Linked DNA regions of Homo sapiens: regions 1, 2 and 3 are each linked to region 4. The links come from fine-mapping of genetic effects on gene expression. A gene starts in region 4. Each other region holds a variant in brackets. All regions are shown on one strand. Distances are between the middles of the regions.

The links. PIP is the estimated chance that this variant, and not a neighbour inherited with it, causes the effect. A credible set is the group of variants that fine-mapping cannot tell apart.
Region 1: its variant is the best candidate, but not a certain one, in a credible set for the expression of EIF4B in whole blood (TOPMed, PIP 0.56).
Region 2: its variant is the best candidate, but not a certain one, in a credible set for the expression of EIF4B in whole blood (TOPMed, PIP 0.64).
Region 3: its variant is the best candidate, but not a certain one, in a credible set for the expression of EIF4B in whole blood (TOPMed, PIP 0.67).

What each region holds. Positions count from the first base shown.
Region 1 is chr12:53,033,853-53,039,540 of GRCh38, reverse strand. It overlaps EIF4B (eukaryotic translation initiation factor 4B), which reads right to left. Exons shown (of 15, transcript NM_001417.7): 9 at 5,507-5,688; 10 at 4,832-4,929; 11 at 1,919-2,132; 12 at 1,130-1,185; 13 at 198-303. Among named protein-coding and RNA genes, the nearest start is that of TNS2, 13 kb to the left of the region's middle. The variant G/A (reference allele first, on the strand shown) is at 2,816.
Region 2 is chr12:53,040,186-53,045,963 of GRCh38, reverse strand. It overlaps EIF4B (eukaryotic translation initiation factor 4B), which reads right to left. Exons shown (of 15, transcript NM_001417.7): 15 at 3,749-5,778. The coding sequence ends at 5,741. It overlaps TNS2-AS1 (TNS2 antisense RNA 1), which reads left to right. Exons shown (of 4, transcript NR_033854.1): 3 at 1-3; 4 at 311-2,775. Among named protein-coding and RNA genes, the nearest start is that of TNS2, 7.0 kb to the left of the region's middle. The variant A/G (reference allele first, on the strand shown) is at 2,893.
Region 3 is chr12:53,024,799-53,030,576 of GRCh38, reverse strand. EIF4B (eukaryotic translation initiation factor 4B) reads right to left here. Exons shown (of 15, transcript NM_001417.7): 7 at 2,658-2,795; 8 at 2,389-2,562. Among named protein-coding and RNA genes, the nearest start is that of EIF4B, 21 kb to the right of the region's middle. The variant C/T (reference allele first, on the strand shown) is at 3,223.
Region 4 is chr12:53,004,035-53,009,812 of GRCh38, reverse strand. It overlaps EIF4B (eukaryotic translation initiation factor 4B), which reads right to left and starts at 3,357. Exons shown (of 15, transcript NM_001417.7): 1 at 3,317-3,357. The coding sequence starts at 3,329. RefSeq lists enhancers at 2,499-3,242, 3,243-3,986.

The DNA.
Region 1 (5,688 bases), 30 kb before region 4:
AGGCACCTCTAGTCAACAGTCCTTGTTGTCTGGATGATGTATTACTTCTAGATTTTCAGAATCTTAACTGTCTACGTTGGCTGACTTTAGTTTGCTCACAATGAGCGATCTGGCAGTGCTCTGAGAACCAAGAACTTAATTTCTTAATTACACAAACATGTGGATCAGAGGAAAGATGAGAAAGAGAACAAGCATACCTATCTGACTCCTTCCAGTGGTCTCTGTTCCCTCCGTCGCCTGGACCACGGCTAGAGTTCCCAGTTTGGCCTTTTGGGGCATTCATCCCATCTACTTTATTTTCATCTGCTTGGGCAGTAATGTAAACAAATTAAAGGCAAGTAAAAGTATCAATGTCCCTCTCCTAAGATTTCCCTTAAGCTGAAGAAAATTGTGCCCACATGTACTGAGGGAAACTAACCTCACCCCAACCCAGACTTCCTTCCTGAAGCCCTTCTTTCCACATCCTCTACAGCACACAAAAATACAAAAAACAAACAAAATCCACTAAAAAGTTCCATGTAGGGATATGCCATCATGAAAAGCAAGCTGGAAATAAAGATTATGACGCTCTGTAGTGACCTTGGTTAATTTCCTTCCGATTTTTTTCTCCCCGTCAAAGAAATGTTCTACCAGGAAAGGGCAGGGTTTCATACTTTCTCCAAAGAGGCCACTCCTCCCTCTACTGGCAAGAAAAGGTAGATAACCCAATAATTCTTTTTTTTTTGAGACAGAGTCTTGCTCTGTCGCCCAGGCTGGAGTGCAGTGGGGCCATCTTGGCTTACTGCAACCTCCGTCTCCCGGGTTCAAGCAATTCTCCTGCCTCAGCGTCTCCCGAGTAGCTGGGATTACAGGCATGTGCCACCACACCCGGCTAATTTTTTTTGTATTTTTAATAGAGACGGGGTTTCACCATGTTGGTAAGGCTGGTCTCAAACTCCTGCCCTGTGATCTGCCCGCCTTGGCCTCCCAAAGTGCTGGGATTACAGGTGTGAGCCCCTGCGCCTGGCCAACCCAAGAACTCTTAACACGGTATCAGGTGCGAGACACACTGCTCTTCAAAATCTAATTTTGGAGGCCTTTTTATTTAGGCTTCTAGGTGAAAAACCTATTTCCCATACTATGAGCTCACCTTTCCTTCCTGGTCCTTCCTCAGATGGTTGAGCTGGAGCTACTTTTCCCCCACCACTAGAAGGAAAACAGGTAATCACATTCATCAGTTGTTTCAGGGAGAAAACAACCAAGAAACATAATCATCCTCCAAATGCAGTGGGTAAGCTTTATAGAAAACAAAATCATACTCAATGTTATGGAACATTAAAATATGGGAAAGATTACAATGAAAGCAGTAATTTGAACACTAAAGTGCCATATGCTTTCTAATCATCACATCATGCAGGATTAGTATTGCTATTTTCTTTTCTTTTGGAGTCTTAACTCTGTCGCCCAGGCTGGAGTGCAATGGCACATCTCGGCTCACTGCAACCTCCGCTCTCAGGTTCAAGCAATTCTCCTGCCTCAGCCTCCCGAGTAGCTGGGATTACAGGTACCTGCCACCACGCCAGGCTAATAGTGTTGCTATTTTGCTTACAAATGAGAAGACTTAAGAGAAATGAAAGGAAGTTACCCCCTACCATACTGCCAATATGTGGCAAAAGGGAAGCCTCTGACTTACAGTATTTGCAGATTTGTGCGGCATTAGTACTCCCATCATAGCTGATTTCAAGCTATCAAAGTGGTGGAACTCCAGAAAATGGAACAACTAGGTCTTATGAGCCAGTTCCAGCACACTAAGAGACTAAAGCCAGCATAACTTATAAGGTGCTATACAACGCTGGCATCCCGTAGGAGATCTTCCATCATTACATCACAGTATTTTAGAATCTGCAGTTAACCAACTACTGTTTCCAAACTGACTCACCTTGTAGGGGACTGCTGCTCTGTGTCTGAGCTCTGAGATCGAGCAGGAGGGTTAGAACTTCGCTTCACCCAAGCATTCTCCTTTGGTGGAGGGGCTGGCATTACCTTTAGGGGCTGATCAGGTTTGGGAGGTTTAGAAGTTGGAGAGTGGCAATCTTCCTCCTTATTGAGTGTTTCATTTTCTAGAGACTTCTCACTCTCTCTCCTTCGTGCATCTGTGAAGCCAGAGTGAAAATATCAAATTATCAGGCTGCAGATGCTCACGCATCTACCAGGATCTCAACAGTGTGGAAAATGGTCCACATCCAAGTTTTGGCTCCCAAAGATGGATTTATCCCTAAACCAGTGGTTTACAAGTATTTCCAGAACAATGTCTTACTGATGCACAGAGAAATAGAAAAAATAATGACCATGTATACAACTTAAGGGACACCCAGCCATGTGACCTTTTTAGGAATGAGTATCCTTTACAGCCTTTCTGCATTCTCAATGTTAAAAGTGTCTTGACCTGGAGAATATACATATGTGAAGAGGACCTACAATGAAACCCCAAACTCTAGTAACCACTGCTCAACTTCAGCTTAAAACTCAACACACATGGACTATGATGCAATCATATTTATGAAAAACCACCTACTGGCTGGGTGCAGTGGCTCTCGCCTGTAATCTTAGGATATTGGGAGGCTGTTGGGGGCGGATCGTTTGAGCCTAAGAGTTTCAGACCAGCCTGGACAACATGGTGAAACCCCAGCTCTACAAAAAATAGACAAATTAGCTGGATGTGGCATGTGCCTGCAGTCCCAGCTACTAGAAATGATGAGGTGAGCTGTGATCATGTTGCTGCACTCCAGCCTGGCTGACAGAGTGAGACTCCATCTCAAAAAACAACAACCTACAC[G/A]TGCGTTTTTTAAAAAATGCAGTTAAGTGTCTTCTAAAAACAAGGAGCCCCCATTGGGAGGCTGAGGCAGGATTGCTTGAGGCCAGGAGTTTGAGACCAGCCTGGGGAGTGTAGTGAGACCCCATCTCTAAAAAAACAAATTTTTTAAATTTAGCCAGGCATGGTTGCGTGCACCCGTCGTATAACAGCTACTTGGGATATTGGGGCAAGAGGATTGCTTGAGGCCAGGAGTTTGAGGCTGCAGTGAGCTATGATCGCACCACTGCACTCCAGCCTGGGTGAGAATGAAACCCTGTCTTAAAAATAAAAAACTAGGCCGGGCACGGCGGCTCACGCCCGTAATCCCAGCACTTTGGGAGGCCAGGGCGGGCAGATCACAAGATCAAGAGATGGAGACAATCCTGGCCAACATGGTGAAACCCCGTCTTTACTAAAAATACAAAAAATTAGCCAGGCCTGGTGGCAGACTCCTGTAATCCCAGCTACTCGGGAGGCTTGGGCAGGAGAATCACTTGAACCCGGGAGGCAGAGGTTGCAGTGTGCTGAGATCATGCCATTGCACTCCAGCCTGGGCAAAAAGAGCGAAACTCCGTCTCAAAATAAATAAATAAAATACAAAAATAAAAAATAAAAAAAATAGAAGGCCAGGCATGGTGGCTCACGTCTGTAATCCCAGCACTTTGGGAGGCCGAGACGGGTGGATCATGAGGTTAGGAGTTTGAGACCAGCCCGTTCAAAAAATTAGTCGGGCATGGTGGCGCTCACCTGTAATCCCATCTACTCAGGAGGCTGAGGCAGGAGAATTGCTTGAACCAGGGAGTCAGAGGTTGCAGTGAGCCAAAATCGTGCCACTGCACTCCAGCCTGGTAACAGAGCGAGACTCCATCTCAATAAATAAATAAATGAATGAAATGCAAGTACAAATCAATTTAGAGGTGGGAGGAAAGACCTTAAAAAATATCACAGTGGCTGGCCCTTGGAATCCCAGCACTTTATGAGGCTGAGACCAGCCTGGGCAACATGGGGAAACCATCTCTACAAAATTTTAGCTGGGTGTAGGCTGGGTGCGGTGGCTGACGCCTGTAATCCCAGTACTTTGGGAGGCCGAGTCGGGTGGATCATGAGGTCAGGAGATTGAGACCATCCTGGCTAACACAGTGAAACCCCATCTCTACTAAAAATACAAAAAATTAGCTGGGTGTGGTGGTGGGCACCTGTAGTCCCAGCTACTCGGGAGGCTGAGGCAGGAGAATGGCATGAACCCGGGAGGCAGAACTTGCAGTAAGCCGAGATCGCGCCACTGCACTCCAGCCTGGGCGACAGAGCGAGACTCGGTCTCAAAAAAAAAAGAAAATAAATAAATAAAAAATTTAGCTGGGTGTAGTGGTGCATGCCTACAGTTCCAGCTACTAGGGAGGCTGAGGGCTGAGGGAGGTGAGGCTACAGTGAGCCATCATCATGCCACTGCACTCCAGCCTGTGTGACAGAGTAAGACCCTGTCTCAAAACAAAATACAAAAAAAACACATCATGGTAAGGGAAGGGAGGTATTACAATTGAACCATTTAGGTTTCCAAAACACTAAAAGTGCTTGATCAACCAGTAATAACACTGCTTGAGAACACTGCTCTGGTGATGATAACATCAAAAAAGGCTGGTCTTGGGACAGCTCACATGAAACTCCAAGCCGTTGACTGTTCTGAATAAACAACATTCAAAGATGTCAAGACATAAAATGAAAATATACCAAAAAAAAAAAAAAAAAAAAAAGAGAGAGACAAACCTAACAACCAAGTATACACTTCAGTGGTAGATTATTAAGCAGATCATCTAGGTCTACTCTGGTACCCATTCCTCAGATTCTTTGGAGCAGAAGATATGAAACTCCAATCGGCCCATGCAACCCAAATAAAGAGTTCATGACTGAATTTAAATATTGCAGGGTCTCTGCATAATTTGGTTATGGATAGTTTATGGAAAACGGCAATAACACGATACCCACCCTGGTCTGACTTACTTCTGCTAGATGTGGTGGAGGTCCCAGTTTGTGATGACTCACTTCCTGTCCTCGACCGTTCCCGTTCCTGAGTTTCTTCACTTCGCCAGCTTGGGTGTCTGTACGAGAGATTCACAAAATACACATTATGCCTGGCTCAGTGAAGGCCACCTTAGACCCATGCTGACCCCTCAAGAACCATCACTTACTTCATCTATATGTGTATATGCATATAAATTTATCTTTCCCTCAAACTATTTGAAAGCTACAGACATTAAGACACACTTTGGCCCTAAATACTTCAGCAAGAATCAACTAATATGGTTAAGAACAGTATCCTACATAATCTACAATACTGCCCTTCTTTACTAATCAACACAGTTCTACAAGCCACTCATTACCAGGCCTAGTTTTTCAGGGCAATTACTTATTATAGTAGGTCTCTAGCCTTTTAGATACAATACCAGCTTTTAATAGTAAACACTTTTGTAATGGACAGGGAACAACTCTTCATTGTGTAAAACTGTCCCTAACACTGCATACTGCCTAACACCCCTGGCCACAGCCCACTAAATGCCCATCAGTGACAACCACTAATGTGATAACGACACAAATTTCCCAAATGCCCCTGGGGATGTAATGCCCCCATTACGAACCACCGGATTCCTAGATGGGATATCCATCAAGACAACACACCTCTCCCGAGGCCGTCGTTCTAGTTTTGGCTCATCCAGCTGACGCTGCAACTTCTCTTGTTCCTTCTGTAGCCGTTCTTCTACTTCTCTTTCTCTAGCAGCTGTGTCAACAGGCTTTGCCCCTCCAAAGATAGAAGCAGCTCGAGTGGACTGGGAGGTACTAGCAGAGGAATCATCTTCCTT
Region 2 (5,778 bases), 36 kb before region 4:
AAGGTAGGGGACATCTTCCTAGAAGTTCTGAACCTGTTGCCATTCCTACATTCCCCCAACGTCCTTTAGCAGTGAGCACTTCCTGAAACTTTCTCCCTCCTTCACCCTCCCTGCTGGATTTTCCATGATGAAAAGGGGCGGGGGGAAGGAAGGTTGGAATTCTGAGAACCCAGTGCCCAGGGCTCAATGCCCAGTGCTTGCCCAAAGTAGCCAGTACCACTGGCTCTAAGGCCTTCTTTCCCTCCCCGTCTCATCTCAACTGGGTCCCTTGTCTTTGGCAAAGGCTGAGAAGTCTGGTTCTCATTTCCAGGGGGTGGAGCACCTGATTCCAATCTTGCCACAGGGAAGAAGAGTCTGTGAAGAAGTGCGTGATGACTGTGTGTCCCCCCCCACCCAGAAATTGGCATTTGGGAGGGGTGGATATGGTTGGGACTGGGGAGCCTTGATCTTACTGCTCTTGGTTGAGTTGGTGTCCAATAGACAGTTTCAGAGGTTAGAGCAGTGGGAGTCACTGGGGACTGGGGACAGGAGAGGTGGGGGTGGGGGAAGCCAGGCGGGAATGAGTAGGGAGGCACTGGGAGGAGGGGAGAGGCAAGAGTTAGGGGAATACCGAGGAAAGTGGCAGGGATTGGAGGCTCCTGGAGAAAGGGCAAGGCTGAAGGTTGTCCCATGTATTTTGGCCAGATTTGATTATGTAATCGAGAATCATGAGATAATTAAGTGTGTTCATGTCTCTGGAGCCTTCAACCAGCTCTTTTAACATCTTGCTCTTCCCAGCATTCCTTAGGGTCTTTGGCTGGGCTCTGGGATGGATGCCATGGGAGTACCTTTACTTAAGCTCTAAAGTTACCAATGGAGAGACTGGGACTCAAAGAGGAACTTGATTGGACCCCAGAGAGGTGAGGGGTAAGGGCTAGAACCTCACACATGCTGGTTTTGCTGCTGCCTGGCAGGCCCATGGGAAGAACTTTAGAGGTTCCAAGGAATTGGAAAAGGGTCACAAGATGGGTGGCCAAACTCCCAGCTCAGGCTTGATTCCTACTCTCAATGTGGGGATAGTGGAGAAGGGGGCTGCAGGAAGGGCTGAGAAAAGCTGAGAATGAGAAGTTATACAGGAGGTAGCTTGGTGGGAGTGAAACAAAAATGAGTGGTTCATGGGCCAGCCAGGCATCCTGATTTCCAGCTCACAGCAGCAGGAGCTTCAGAGAGGAAGAAGGAGAGGAGGAGAAAGCCAGGTTGATGTTAGTAAAGGTCAAACAATTTCAGGAGCACCTCTGACCTCCCTCCACACAGGTTTTCTTACCTTGACTATGCAGAGGGTGGTCCATCTTGGCACTGAAGATGGAACCCCCTCTTCCATGGTCTGGGGTGACCCCATGCCTGTAACTGAATGTGCTCAGATCCTTGGGGTGCGGGGACTGTAGGGGGAGGATTTGAAGGTGTGGGACTGTCCTGGCTGGAGACCACTGGGTCAGGAGAACTCCAGTAGAGGGTTTGGGTGCTGGGAACCAGGAAGAGTGGGGGAAGGGGCAGAGCCAACTCCAGAGGCGGATCTCCTGGCTGAGGACAGAGGGTGTATTGTCCAAGCTGGAGGTTGCTGTAGCTGGGCGGGGAGCAGCTCAGCTCGTCTCTTCCAAATTTCTTTTGGGGGAGGGTAAGGGAAGGCAAGCCCCCCTTTACTTGTGGCCCTGGGGGCTACAATGGTTGCTGAGAAACAAGGCTTATTTGACAAATAATGCTTCCCAGGAGCAGATGTGTAGCTCTCTCACTTCCTGAGAAACCAGATGCTGTGAGCTCGCTTAGCACTTGAGGCGACGCCCTCAGCACGAACTGGGACCCTAGTGCCTTGGGATCCGGAGTATAGTGCTTGATTCTATTGAGAAGAAACGAGGCTAATGTGGACTGGGAGACACACGGGACCTAATCAGCCTCAAGTTAGCCCTTTTGAAGTAGGTTGCTGCACCTGCACTTTCCCCCTACTCGTCCACTAGTTCAAGATTTACAAGACGTTGACAATGAGGGCTGACCAGTCCTGGGTCCACTCCTGCAGCTGGGGGGCTTCTCGGTGGACCCACACTTTTTTTTTGAGACAGGGTCTTGCTCTGTTGCCCAGGCTGGAGTGTAGTGGTGTGATCACAGCTCACTGCAGCCTTGACCTCCTGGGTTCAAGTGATCCTTCCTCCCAAGTAGCTGCAACTATGGGCATACACCACCATACCTGGATAATTTTTCTATTTTTTTGTAGAGACAGGGTCTTGCCATGTTGCCCTGACTAGTCTCAAACTTCTAGGCTCAAGCGATTCTCCTGCCTCATCCTCCCAAAGTGCTGGGATTACAGGTGTGAGCAACCATTGAGACAAGAGTCTCGCTCTGTCACCCAGGCCGGAGTGCAGTGGTGCGATCCCGGTCCACTGCAACCTCCACTTCCCGGGTTCAAGCGATTCTTCTGCCTCAGCCTCCTGAGTAGCTGGGACTACAGGTGTACACCACCATGCCTAGCTAATTTTTGTATTTTTAGTAGAGACGGGGTTTCACCCTATTAGCCAGGCTGGTCTAGAACTCCTGACCACATGATGTGCCCGCCTTGGCCTCCCAAAGTGCTGGGATTACAGCTGTGAGCCATGGCACCTGGCCACACACGTCTTTTTAAATTTAAATGAGGATGTGGCCATATTACAGCCCAGGTTTTCTCTGACTTTAGAGTACCTTTTGGGACATAGGGCCTTCCTCTCTACCCTTTCTGTACACAGCCATCATAAACCTCTTTCAACAAGCCTTTCCTATTTTTATGTTCCTTCTTTCCATCATTTACCTAGACCTCATTATTGCACAGCTGAGAGTGGCTTGAAACAAAGGCTTGGAGAATGTGAGTGAAACTGATTCCTGTGGTGG[A/G]GAGGCAGTGAAAAAGCATTACCTTGTAGGTTTCCAGGCAGCCTGGACAATAGGGGCACCTAAACCCACATTGAAAAGCCTTCACATCATCACAGCTGAGTCTCATAGCCTTCAACTTTACCAGTTTTGGAGAACAGAGATAAATGCACTGGCCAGAAACTAGAAGAGCAGCTGCTCCAATTGGCTGGGAAATCATTTAACTGGCTCCTCATCTTGGCTCTTAAATCCCCAAAATTGTTGACTGAGGTTTCCCGGGCTCCTTTCTATGCTCCACCTCCTTGTGACCTTAAGGATTCTCTGCCACTGTCCTAACCCCTTTCCCGCCTTGCAACAATGACCAGTCTGTCCCTAGCTGTTTGGAAAATTCCCACTGAGTCTGTGAGCCTCTGTTCTGGTAACCTCGACCAGCCTGTCACCAGTATCTCTGGTCCACCAGTGCGGTGTAACTCAAGGGAGCAGCATCTCTCCAGATTGCTGAAGTGAGGGAGGGAGATTATGAGGGAACTGCCCCAAGGACACAAGGATTCATTCTTAGAGTTCCCACATCTTGATTAAAATAAACAGTACAGGAAATAGACTGCAGGCACATCCAGGTGATTAAAAAATTTAACACCAGGCAAAAAAAAAAAAAAAAAAAAAAAAAAAAGCCAGAGGGGAGCTAGGATGCAAACTCTATTATTGGGCCTCAATAAACACTGAAATAGATTCCCTTGTAACCCCACCCTCTAATCTTGGACAATATGGTATCCAATACTGAATGAAAACTTCAGAGATGGTAGGAGGAGGAGGAGCAGGTGGTCAATGACTACAGTAAAAACCACTGGGAGTGCAGAGTATTTGTCAAAGAACTTCAGCATTACAATGAACTTTAAAGATCAGATTTATTTGGAGAAAACAAAAAACCCACAACCCAAAGGATGGGATTTTACATCAAGACATCTCCCAGGTAATAAGTCTACAGATTACAAATCATTTTCATAGAAGATATTTTTGTACAAATTTTACATGTATTCAGGAGCGGGACATTAATCAATCCCTGTTTCTATTTTAATAGGGGGGACAAGGTAGGGGAGAGGGAAAAACAGTTTTGGATATAACTATTTGGAAGGAGAGTAGACATGAAGAGGGCAAACCCTAGCTTTTCATTATCTACAATCAATAGTTTGTTTTTCTTTTTTAAAAAAGAAAGAAAAACCCTTTCAATCTTCAATACTCTTTAAAAGCCCACTTCTTAGCTACTGGCCAATCCACACCAATTATTTAAATTCACTTGGTACACACCTTTGTCCACTGGGTAAATTATATTCATTATGCCCACTGCTGCAGCACGCATAAACCAACACCCCTGCATGGCTGAACAGGGCCTAATCTAGGACTGATGGGAGAAGGGCTTGCAAACCAAGATCAAGGTGTTTCTCCGCTAATACTGTCTACCAAGCTGATCCCTACAAAAATGCATATAAAAGCAGGCAAGTTTAGCTACTGTGTTGCAAGAGAAACCAGGACCTTGTTAAATAGTTCTCTCCATTACCATTTATTCTCTCAAGGGAAGCTTAAAAAAACAACAACAAAACAACACATTGGTCTGGCCACCTCATGAATCCAACAAGCATTAGTGTGGCATTTCAGTGGAGAAGGAAACTTGGGGGGAAAAATCCCATCAAGGTTGTAAGAAAGGCTCCCAATTTAACTGTCCCTGTCCCTATTTATCCATCATCCAAGACCATCCATTATTCTAGAGCACTCTGATCAATAAAAGGGGTCCAAGCATCAGGAGCAGGCAAGGAGAACCAAAAGACATCAAGAAACCGATTTGCTTGAGAAAAGCAGCGATTCTTCCTTTCAGAGTTCTCCATGGCTGAGAAAATGCCCAAGACATCATGTATGTGACTTAGATACTGCTTTTTGGGAGGTTAAGAGTAGCATGAAGAACTTAAGATGATGATAAGAGTCTAAATTTTTAGTTTCAAGGTTTCAATAGAATGTGGATATATTCAAAACTTTCAAAAAGGACAGTGTTTAGAAAGGGTAAAACTAGGACACAGAAAACACTGGGAATTACCACGACCCCCAAGTGCTTCCGGCTCCAGGAAATAACCATTCATGTGTTTGCTGGAGGTCACACAATTTTCCCCTATTACCTGGTGCAAAATGACTCATCACTTCCCAAAAGCTTCTTTTCAAACCACGATTTTCCCATTTATTTTGGTCCAATGCAGTCCCATTCTTTATGGCCTATAGTCTCACTCCCAACTACCCCCCTGGGGGGTTAAAAAAAAAAAAGGAATTCCCTCTAGGCTGGCCCCCAAAACTCAGAATTAAATAAGAGGAGGGGCTGGCAGCCTCCTGGAGACTAGAACAACTTGAGGCTAAATCTACCTTTCCAAGAGTGGAAAATTTATTCAGATAATGTTTGAGAATTCATATATGCCACAATAGGATAAAAACTAAAAGGTAGAAATCTCACACTTTTCCTTCTACCTCCCTCCCCTACTGCCCAACCAGGTTCCAGGCATTATATCACTGTCATTACCATTTCTGCTAAATGGAGACCCCTAGGCACTAATCACACTGGCAACTGCATGGTGACATAACGCACCACAACTTTTCCTCTAAAAAGCTGTAGTCCCTTTCTCTCTGGCTGTATTGGCAATTCTCCAGTTACTTCAATACTTTAAAGGCTGCAGCAGCATGCAAAATAATTTCATTTTTTGTTTTTAAAAAAAGGTAAGAAAGGTCTTCAGGAGATGGTGAGTTTTATTTTGTCTTGTCTGGATAGAGGTTTTGATTTGCTCTCGAATGTTCCAGGGTGGAGAGAAACTAGGAGAAAAGCACAGGATGTAGAGGTCTATTCGGCATAATCTTCTCCCTCATTTTCATCTTCAC
Region 3 (5,778 bases), 21 kb before region 4:
AGCCGGGCGTGGTGGCAAGCCCAGCTACTTGGGAAGCTGAGGCAGGAGAATCACTTGAACCTGGGAGGCAGAGGTTGCAGTGAGCCGAGATCGCGCCATTGCACTCTAGCCTGGGCAACTAGAGAGAGACTCCGTCTCAAAAAAAAAAAAAAAAAAAAAAAAAGAATATAATTTTTTAAAACCTATTTCCTATTTTATTATTTTTTAGATGGGGTCTCACTATGTTGCCCAAGCTGAAATGAGACCTTGGCTAACTGCAGCCTTGACCTCCCAGGCTCAAGCGACCCTCCTACCTCAGTCTCCTAAGACACGGGGACTACAGGCACATGCTACCACGCTCAGCTAACTTTTATATTTTTTGCAGAGATGGGGTCTCACTATGTTGCCCAAGCTGAAATGAGACCTTGGCTAACTGCAGCCTTGACCTCCCAGGCTCAAGCGACCCTCCTACCTCAGTCTCCTAAGACACGGGGACTACAGGCACATGCTACCACGCTCAGCTAACTTTTGTATTTTTTGCAGAGATGGGGTCTCACTATGTTGCCAGGGCTTGTCTTGAACTCCTGGACTCAAGTGATCCTCCTGCCTTGGCCTCTCAAAGTGCTGGAATCACAAATGTGAGCCACCATGGCTGGCCTAAGTTTTTTTTAAAAAAAACAAACATTGAATTATTATTATTATTTTGAGGAAGGAGTAAAGACTTCACCATTTTCTGAGGGAGAAGGAAAGACCTCACTGCAATAGAATTGCCATATGGCTCTGATGAATTCTGTCATCTCACTGTGTTTTATTAGTTGTCCAGATCGATTTTCCTTTCTTGGGGAATCACAGGAGATGATGGATATAAAGCCATTGCCACAAAGTTTAGGACTAACACAAAGATGTTAAAGATAGGAAAAATTTGGCCGGGCACGGTGGCTCATGCCTGTAATCCCAACACTTTGGGAGGCCAAGGCAGGCGGATCACGAGGTCAAGAGATTGAGACCAGCCTGGCCAACATGGTGAAACCCTGTCTCTACTAAAACTACAAAAATTAGCTGGGCATGGTGGCGTGCACCTGTAGTCCCAGCTACTCGGGAGGCTGAGGCAAGAGAATTGCTTGAACCTAGGACGCAAAGGTTGCAGTGAGCTGAGATCATGCCACTGCACTCCAGCCTGGCAACAAACAGAGCAAGACTCCGTCTCAAAAAAAAAAAAATAAAATAAAAAAAGGATAGAAAAAATTCTGGGCCAGATACCATAACCTTTTATATGACATCACTGAAGTTAGAACACAAATGGTGGCCATTTATTAGTATTTTATAACAGGTTAGATTTGTAACACAGTTTACATTTTATATCTTATAGTATTAGGGGCATAATTTTAGAATAGGTGCACCAAAATCTCACCTTTATAATTAATGAACATCAATTATTGTGGTATAATGGTACAGAAAGCAATCCTTTTTTTTTTTTGAGACAGTCTCACTGTCGCCCAGGCTGGAGTGCAGTGGTGCGATCTCAGCTCGCTGCAACCTCTGCCTCTGGGCTCAAGCAATTCTCCTGCCTCAGCCACCCGAGTAGCTGGGATGATAGGTATGTGCCACTACGGCCACCTAATTTTTGTATTTTTAGTACAGACGGGGTTTCACCATGTTGGCTAGGCTGGTCTCGAACTCTTGACCTCAAATGATCTGCCCACCTTGGCCTTCCAAAGTGCTGAGATTACAGGTGTGAGCCACTGCACCTGGCCTTAATGCTTCGTTTTTAACCCCATAGTACCAATTATGGGCTACAGGACTATGTTTAATCTGAATTTCATTTCCCTTACTTGGAAAATGGAGCTAAAACCATCTGTTTTAAGTGTAATTTACTGAGATCACAACATAACAGTATCTGGCAACTTTTTTTTCCATTTCTACTGTTTATTCAATAAATTTTAACTGAAAAATCTATCTGTGAAGGCATATGAGATGAAAACAATTCGACTGCTGTGTTTCCACTGATGTCATCCTTAGCCAATGCTTTTTTTTTTTTTTTGAGATGGGGAGTCTCACTCTGTCACCCAGGCTGGAGTGCAGCGGCGCCATCTCCACTCACTGCAAGCTCTGCCTCCCGGGTTCCCACCATTCTTCTCTCTCAGCCTCCCTAGTAGCTGGGACTACAGGTGTCTGCCACCACACCTGGTAGAGACGGGGTTTCACCATTAGCCAGGATGGTCTCGATCTCCTGACCTTGTGATCTGCCCACACCTGGCCAGCCAATGCTCTTTCTACTATGCTTTGCTGCTTCCTGTACAATGTGCAAATTATATTTGTGCCCAACTCAGTAGTTCGTAACACAATCACAAATTTTCCGTAGTTTTCCCAGTTTCTGCTCCATGAAGTACGTAAAAAGAAAACTATTACCTCTATCATCACGCCTATAATCATCCCGAGAGTAATCATCTCTGGAGCTCCACGACCGATCATCCCGTCTGTCATATCGGTCTTCATAGCGGTCCCCGCCTCCTCTGTAGTCATCATCCCTGCGATACCCACTGCCAAATGCTCTTCTGCCACTGCCTATCCGGGAATCATAGCCTGTAAATATATCCCAAATTATAATCATCACAGCGGAGGGGGAAAAAAAAAAGGCAAAGTTACTGAAAGAGCAATTCGACATGTTTTACAATTACCTCTATCATAGTCTCTGCTGCCTCGGTCATCATAGCGATCCCGGCCACCATATCGATCCATATCCCGGCGTGGGCCATCCCGATACCCATCCCGATACCCATCCCGATACCGGTCTGAATCATAACGATCTCGATACTCTAGAGGAAACAGACAAGTAACACCATCCCCTTTTCTCTGACACCATTAATAGAAACACGGTAAGCTATCAGTCCAATTTGGAAGAATCTGTTTATTTAAATTTTCTATCTGATTTCTTCAAAAAGTTTCCCTGGTGAAATAATTGTTGCTCAGCTAATAATTTGGGAAGGGTGGGTTGGAAATTAAAAAATCCCTAAATATTCCATAATGAATTTCCAGAAGGAGAAGAGGTTTACATGCAAAAACAAAAAACAAAACAAAGCACAAGACACTAAAACAATACAGTTGGGAATCTCCCATGTTTGATCCCAAAGACCACTTATTTTTTAATTAAAAAAATTTTTTTAGCTGGTCACGGTGGCTCATGCCTGTAATCCCAGCAGCACTTTGGGAGCCCGAGGTGGGCAGATCACGAGTTCAAGAGAT[C/T]GAGACCATCCTGGCCAACATGGTGAAACCCCGTCTCTACTAAGGATACAAAAATTAGCTGGGCGTGGTGACGCACACCTGCAGTCCCAGCTACTTGGGAGGATGAGACAAGAGAATGGTGTGAACCCGGGAGGCGGAGGTTGCGCTGAGATCATGCCCCCGCACTCCAGCCTGGCGAGAGAGTGAGACTATGTCTCAAAAAAAAAAAAAAAAAAAATTTTTTTTTTTTTTGAGAGACAGTCTCTCTCTGCTGCCCAGGCTGGTCTTGGACTCCCGGGCTTAAGCAATCCTCCAGCCTTGGTCTCCCAAAGTGCTGGGATTATAGGCCTGAGCCGTAACACCCAGCCTCAAAGATCACTTTAAGAGGCAAACAAAATGAGAAACAATATATGCAACATATGACTAACAGGACATAATTTTCTATTGAATTTTAGGAGCTTAAATCAATTTCTGCACTGCTGATCATAATTTTAAATGGTACAAATACACTTTGGGAGGTTGAGGTTGGTGGATTGCCTGAGCTCAGGGGTTTGAGACCAGCCTGGGCAACATGGTGAAACCACAACTCTATCAAATATACAAAAAATTAGCCGGGCATGGTGGTGCAGGCCTGTGGTCCCAGCTACTTGGGAGGATGAGGTGGAAGGATCACTTGAGCCAGGGAGGCAGAGGTTGCAATGATCCAAGATTGTGCCAAGGCACTCCAGCCTGGGTGACAGAGTGAGACTTCCTCTCAAAATAAATAAATAAATCAATAAATTAGTATAAATACTGAAAGTTGTATTAGAACTATGCATGAAAAGATTTGAAGTCATGTATACCCTTCTTGACCAACAATTTAATTTCTTGAAATTCACTGAGGAAATAATTGGATGTGTGATAAAGATACATGTACAAAGACATTCATTGCAATGTTGTTTATGTTATAAACTATATTTTACACACACATGTGCATTTCAGTATCAGAGGACCCTAAATACTAGAAATCTGTATAAAGAAACGTAGTAGCTCAGATAGCAAACTGTGGGTAGCGTTATGTTGTTTGTAAAAGGGATAGCTGCTATTTAGCTCCAGCTGACTGTTGCTAGGATCTTCCAATTTTCTGAGAGAAGCTGGCAACCCAGATTTTAAAGTTAAAAAAAAAATCTGAATTTCTAAATATAAATTAACTAACTAAAACAACCTACACGTTTTAAGAGCTGATAATTTATGTATGGGGGACAAACAGGGATCTTTTTCTTTCTCTTTTTTTTTTGAGACGGAGTCTCACTCTGTCGCCCAAGCTGGAGTGCAGTGGCACAATCGCGGGCTCACTGCAACCTCCACCTCCCGGGTCCAAGCGATTCTCTTGCCTCAGCCTCCCCAGTAGCTGAGGTTACACGTGTCCGGCTAATTTTTTTTTTGTATTTTTAGTAGGGACAGGGTTTCACCGTGTTAGCCAGGATGGTCTCAATCTCCTGACCTCATGATCCGCCCGCCTCCGCCTCCCAAAGTGCTGGGATTACAGGCGTGAGCCACCATGCCCGGCCAGGGATCTTTTTCTTGTGGCTGCTGTCTTTTAAATAATGATTTCATTTTGGAAACCACATAATTTTTACTGACCAGACATAACATTTCCTGGTATTATAAACTTTATATATTAAAGAACATGCTAATGTTAGTAAAATGATTATAGAAATGATCTAAAACAGGACACATATAAGAAAATCAGCCCTGTGTTTATTTTGAAATGTGGTTTTAATTTCTGGAGATGCGATTTACACTTAATTTTATTTGGGTAATACTGAAATTATGATAAGCTTGTGTTTCCTGAGAAAGCATAGATCCATGCTGGAGAAAAGCAGCACATGCTATTACTGACATTTCATAGGAATACTGAGTGTAATACCCCCCAACACCCCTCGGGGTTCTCTTTTTGGCCTAATGCTTGGGACAGGAGTCTCTGGATCTTTAATTCAGGTTAACTAAGTTGACTTTGGGGCAGCTTTGGATAACAACAGCACACTCACTCGTTATCCATTCTGCTTGCTCTAAATTCAAGGTTTCAGGTGAGAAAAGTCATGCCCCTGGACTCAAAACAGGACCCTTGGTCTGATTGTCTGCTTTTTCTTTCAAGAGCCATTTCTTCCTGTTAACAATAGAATCTCTTGCATAAATGCTGAAGTTAATCACCTCACATAGTTCTCCCCAAGGCTTTGCTGTGTCACAAAGTCATGTAAAAAGTCAGATATAAACTTGCTGATTTATCCTTCTTTCAGACCTATGACCCATTCTTCTTCCTTCTACATCTTAAAAGGTTAAGGACTCTCCTCTAAAAGGAATTATACATATCCCTTACTGCTTCCCCAATTATATTTAGTACAAAGCTCAAAAGGTACCTCACAAAATTAAAATGCTTGTGCTGGGAGCGCTGGCTCACACCTGTAATCCCAGCATTTTGGGAGGTCAAGGCAGGCAGATCATCTGAGGTAAGGAGTTAGAGACCAGCTGGCCAACGTGGTGAAACCCCATCTCTACTAAAAAATACAAAAATTAGCCAGGTGTGGTGGTGCGCAT
Region 4 (5,778 bases):
GTATTTAAACTTTCATAAAGAGTTTTAATTTTGGCCTTCTGGGTATCTTACTCACAGAATAACATATACATGATAGAGGATGGAACTTGACACTAGGGAATCTGTAAGCAATATATAATGGCACCCCTTAAAACCATTTCACTGTGAGAGTCAGCAGTGTATGAAAACAACCACTGCAGAGCATCTTCTCCCTATAAAAATAATCAAATAAGATGTCACACAGGACTGCATTTTGAAGCATTATGGAAATGAAAGGCCTGTGCATGAGCTTACATATGTTATTTCCAATTTTAAAGTTTGTTTTTGTTTTTTTTTTTTGAGACGGAGTCTCGCTCTGTCGCCCAGGCCGGAGGGCAGTGGTGCAATCTCAATTCACTGCAACCTCTGCCTCCTGGATTACAGGCGTGAGCCACCACGCCCAGCCCAAAACCCCGCTAATTTTTGTATTTTTAGTGGAGACTGGGTTTCACCATGTTGGCCAGGCTGGTCTCGAACTCCTGTTCTCAGGTGTTTCACCCACCTCAGCTTCCCAAAGTGCTGGGATTACAGGCATGAGCCACTGCACCCTGCCCAATTTGAAAGCATTTTAAATGTTAACCTGTATCAAACGCATTTGATTCCCTCTAGGTAAGGGGACAGCAGATAAATAATGACCACTTTCCAGATAAAGAAACTGAGATTCAAGCGGTAACTGGCTTATTACTGGCAAGTCTACTAAAGTAGTCACAATGAAAATTTAAGAAAAATGAAAAACTTCGTATTTTTAAGATTTTTTTTTGAAATGGAGTCTTGCTCTTTTGCCCAGGCTGGAGTGCAATGGCACAATCTCGGTTCACTGCAATCTCCCCCTCCCAGATTGAAGCGATTCTCCTGCCTCAGCCTCCGGAGTAGCTGGGATTACAAGCACGCGACACCACGCCCAGCTAATTTTTGTATTTTTAGTAGAGACAGAGTTTCACCATGTTGGTCAGGTTGGTCTCCAACTCCTGACCTAGTGATCCGCCCGCCTCGACCTCCCGAAGTGCTGGGATTACAGGCGTGAGCCACCGCGCCCGGCCTTTAAGAATTCTTTTTAAGAAGCAAAGCAAGGAATTAAGTGTACTGGCTCAATGTATCAAGTTTCTAGGAATTCAAACTATCCTCATTCTATAGTTAGTTCTGAGACCTACCTTAGTTCTTGAAGGTCAATAATGGATCACACTGGAAACTGGTATTGCTGCAAAGAATTTTTTGGTCTCATTTAACAGTAAAAGAGGCGTATGAAGTTGTTTTATGTATTTTCACACAGAACACATAACATCCATTTCCCACATCAGGGAATACTGGTTACTTCACAAAGCCAGTGTGACTGGAAAGAGGAGCGGGGAAACAATCCGATAAACCCCAGATTCCTCAAGAACAGACTGAAAGATGTGACTTGTGCTCAGATACCAGTACCAGCTAAAAAGATTTACTGAAGTGAATTAAAGGAGATGAGGGTTTTCAAGGGGGTAGAGTAAATATGGAAGAACAAGAGAATGGGACGTCAGAGTAAATCCCTTTTATCAGTCTGGATTTCCCTCAACTCGGTAAAACGAAGGACATGAATTGCTGTCCTATGTTCCGCCTCTAAAAATTACACAAAAGTTAAGAAAACACAGATTTTCTTCACTAAATTACGATACTAAACTGTTAAGGTGGCAAATCCAGACCAAGTAAGTACTTTAAGCAATGGTTAGTTTAAAATATATTTAGGACTTTTACTAGCCCACTGGAGAAAAAAATATGAACATTTTTGTAAACTTCAGATGCTTTCGGGCAGCGTCCTAAACTGATGATGACACCTTGATACTTTTAAGTTGCTAAGGAGTCTCAAAGATTATGACCTTGCTCTGCCAGCTGAGAGCAGTGTGGCCTTAAATAATATTCCTTAGCTGAGAAATACCACTAGCTCTCTGCAGTACCTCAGGATGGAAGGAGACAACATGCACAAAAGTGCTTGGTCAACTGTCAAGCGTTACACCAATGAAAGATGTTCAAATGCACCTCAAATTTCTCAACATTTTCCAAAGCCAACCAAAACCCTTAGCTTCTTTGTAATAGAGACGATGAATTACTAGGTAAGAAATGAGCACCCAGAGATAGAAGTTCAAATAATGTTTTGAAGAATGCAAGGTCATGCCAGAGAAAACAAACTATATTCCTCAAACTAAAATCAATGCTACAAGATGTTGGGTCATCACTGCTTTTATAAGCCCATTAGAAATGTAATTAGACTTGCAAGGCACTGATACTCCCCTCCAAGGTTGTCTAAAGAAGTAAGCAACTCCAGCCATTAGTAAGCACTATTTTAAAAGTACCTGCTGGTAGTTGCACAGTTACCTTAAAAAAAAAAAAAAAAAAAAAAAAAAAAGGCTGAAATCTACCATTGGAGCTATCCAAATTCAACCAACATGGAAGCGCCGGAAGCGAAACCTGATCCTGGCATATAGCTGCGCTGAGTAAAAAATGCCTCCAATTGAGTATGAGAAAAAAGCCTAGAAGGAAATCTAGGTGCACACCGGTGCTTCTCCAACACGTGGGCGCACCTAACTGGATTCCCCACCCCCATCTAACGCCAATAGCACCAACCTCCAAGGCTAACACACACACCCTTAGAAGAATACAGGCACAGGGCCCACACTCTAGAAAGGGAAGAGACAACCTAAAAGGACATAAGTGCGCAACACAGGCGCGTTAAAAAGCTTCCCATCTGGGTTCTAGCGCACGCATTGAAGGCGCGCCCGTCTCTACTACCCTCGTGTCTCCTACCGCGCACGCGCACCGCTGCCTTCCCCCGCCCCTCCACCAACTCGCGCTCGCGTTCCAACTGCTCCCCCCCACCACACTTACTCCCCTACCCCCCACTCCGGTCCGCTACAGCCTCGCGCCTTGGAGACGTAGTCTAATGTGCACTCGTCCGCGCAGCAACCGCCTCCTTCCTTCCTCCACGCCTTCACGCGGGCACGGTGATTCACGTCTACGAAAAGGCCTCGCACCACCCGCACACCTTTCTGCGCCTCCTTCCCCAATTCAAGCCAGAGTCTACCATTACTGCCTATTCCAATCTCGCGCAGAAAGGGTGAAAAGAGTGTGAGGGGGAGGGGAAGGTGTCCTTCCCCTCCCCCCCAAACATCCAGAGGCAGTAACCTAACAGGGCCACGCCGCCAGCCTGCCGCAGCCCTCAATTCAGAAAGGAACCAGTGCCAGCAATTCCCCGACTTCAGGAAATCAGTGGATCACGCTCGGAGGGGGGTTTCAGAGCCCAGTCCTTGGCCGCGCTCGGCTGCTCGCTCACCTGAGGCCGCCATGTTGGGAGAGGGAAAGAGAACGCAAAAGACCCGGATGAGGCAATCACGTGATTATAGCGGGCGCGTCGAGCTAGGAGACGCGAAGCTGGGAGGGGGCGGGGAGGTGAGGACGGAGACAGGAGGCGGGGCGGCGCTGCTCTAGGTTCGTAAAGCTGCGCGGCGAGGTGGCACGCCGTCCGACGGGAAGACATGCGCGACATGTGGCCAAAGGGGCGGGGCCTGGGTTGTCGCGAAACCCCTCACGCTTTACGTAGGGCTACACGCGAGCGCGGGGCTGGAGCTGAGTCCTGGCCGGCCTCCTGACGCACAGACTTCCTGCCGGAAGAGTGGCGGGAAGGGCGGGGCTTCGCTGCTGCTTCTGCTTACTCTGCACGGAGCCGGTGATGGGTGTGGCGAAATGGATGTGCTGAAAGGGAAGATTCTGAGTTTAATGTACTTTTTTGAGACGGAGTTTCGCTCCTGTTGTCCGGGCTGGAGTGCAATGGCGTGCGCGACCTCGGCTCATTGCAACCCCCGCCTCTCGGGTTCAGGCGATTCACCTGCCTCAGCCTCTGGAGTAGCTGGGATTACAGGCGCCCACCACCATTCGCTGCTAGTTTTTTGTATTTTTAGTAGAAACGGGATATTTCACCATATTGGCCATGCTGGTCTTGAACTCCTGGTCTCAGGCTATCCACCCGCCTCGGCCTCCCAAAGTGCTGGATTATAGGCGTGAGCCACCGCGCCCGGCCTAGTTTTTAAAAGCCACATCAGAAATCACTGATTTTATTTTTATTTATTTTTATTTTTTGAGACGGGGTCTCGCCCTGTCTCCCAAGCTGGAGTGCAGTGGCGCGATCTCGGCTCACTGCAGCCTCAACCTCCGGGGCTCAAGCAGTTCTTCCACCTCAGCCTCCTGAGTAGCTGGGACCACAGGCGAGTGCCTCCAGGACCAGCTAATTAAAAAAAAGTCTTTGTGTGGAGACAGAGTGGCGGGCTTGGGGGGGGCGGTGTGTCTCCCTGTGTCGCCTGGGCTGGTCTCGAACTCCTGGACTCAAGCATTCCTCCCTCCGAGGCCTCCCACAGTGCCGGGATTACAGGCATCAACCACTGTTTGTTTTCAAATTACTTTTTGTAAAGGCAAAACAAATCGAACGTCTTGTGTAAGAATGGTTTTAATGAGGCATATTTAGACGGAATAAGAAGGTAACAAATGCTGAACACTTAATTGTCATGGGCTTTTACCTCATTTAATGGTCCAATTTGCTGACTAGGTTTAGTCCAACTTAGGCCTTTAGGATTTCTGAGACTAGGGCTATTCATGCTTCCCCTAGCTGATGTTCCATTTCATTCATTAAATGAAAATTTTTGTTTCCCACCGTGTGCCAGGCACAGACACTTGCGGGTACAACATGGAATAGAACTGTCCCAAAAGAGGTTATATTCTAGTGGGGGAAGGACAGATAATAAGCAACTAATAAAATATTACAACAAGTATTCTGTGAGTAATTAAAACAAGGTGGTGTAATAAGTTATTAGGTGCAACTTTAGATTGCCTGTCAGAGTAGACCTCTGAGGAAGTGACATTCAGACAGAGGTCTAAATTACAAGCTGCCATCCCTGGGAATGTCTTCTGAAGAGGTTTAGGAGAAGACAGGATGCGCAGTTGGGTTTGCTGCAATATGGTGAGGGCAGGGGAGGGAGGAGTGGTACAGGATGAATCTTGAGAGAGAGGGGCTGGATCATGTGAGGCTGATCATGTGAGGGGATTGGGAAAGTGTGGAATGATTTAAGGCAGAGAAATGTCATGAGTTGAAATAAAATTTTAAAAAGGATTACTTAGTATCCTGATGTGAGTGGTGGTTACATGGGTGTATATCTAGAATTCGTATACTTAAGATTTGTGAATACTTAAGATTTGTGTACTTTATGTAAGTCACGCGTTAATTAGAAAAAAAGAGATTACTCAGGCTACTGAATGGAGAGTGCAATTGTCAGAGGTGTTTGAACCGGAGCAACTCCTTGAATAGGGCTGGGTAAAATAAGTCTGAGACCTACTGGGCTGCATTCCCAGAATGTTAGGCATTCTTAATCACAGGATGAGACAGGAGGTCAACACAAGTTATAGGTCACAAAGACCTTGCTCATAAAACAGCATGCAGTAAAGAAGCCAGCCAAATCCCATCAAAACCAAGATGGCGACTAAATTGACCTCTCCTCACTGCTTATTATATGCTAAATATAATTCGTTAGCATGGTAAAAGATACTCCCACCAGGACATGACAGTTTACAGATGCCATGGCAATGTGAGGAAGGGGGAGGAACCCTCAGTTCGGGAATCGCCCTCCTCTTTCCAGGGAAAACATGAATAATCCACCCCGTGTTTCCCATATAATCAAGAAATAACGGTAAGTATTCTTAGTCAAGCAGCCCATGCTGCTGCTCTCTGCCTATGGAGTAGCCATTCTT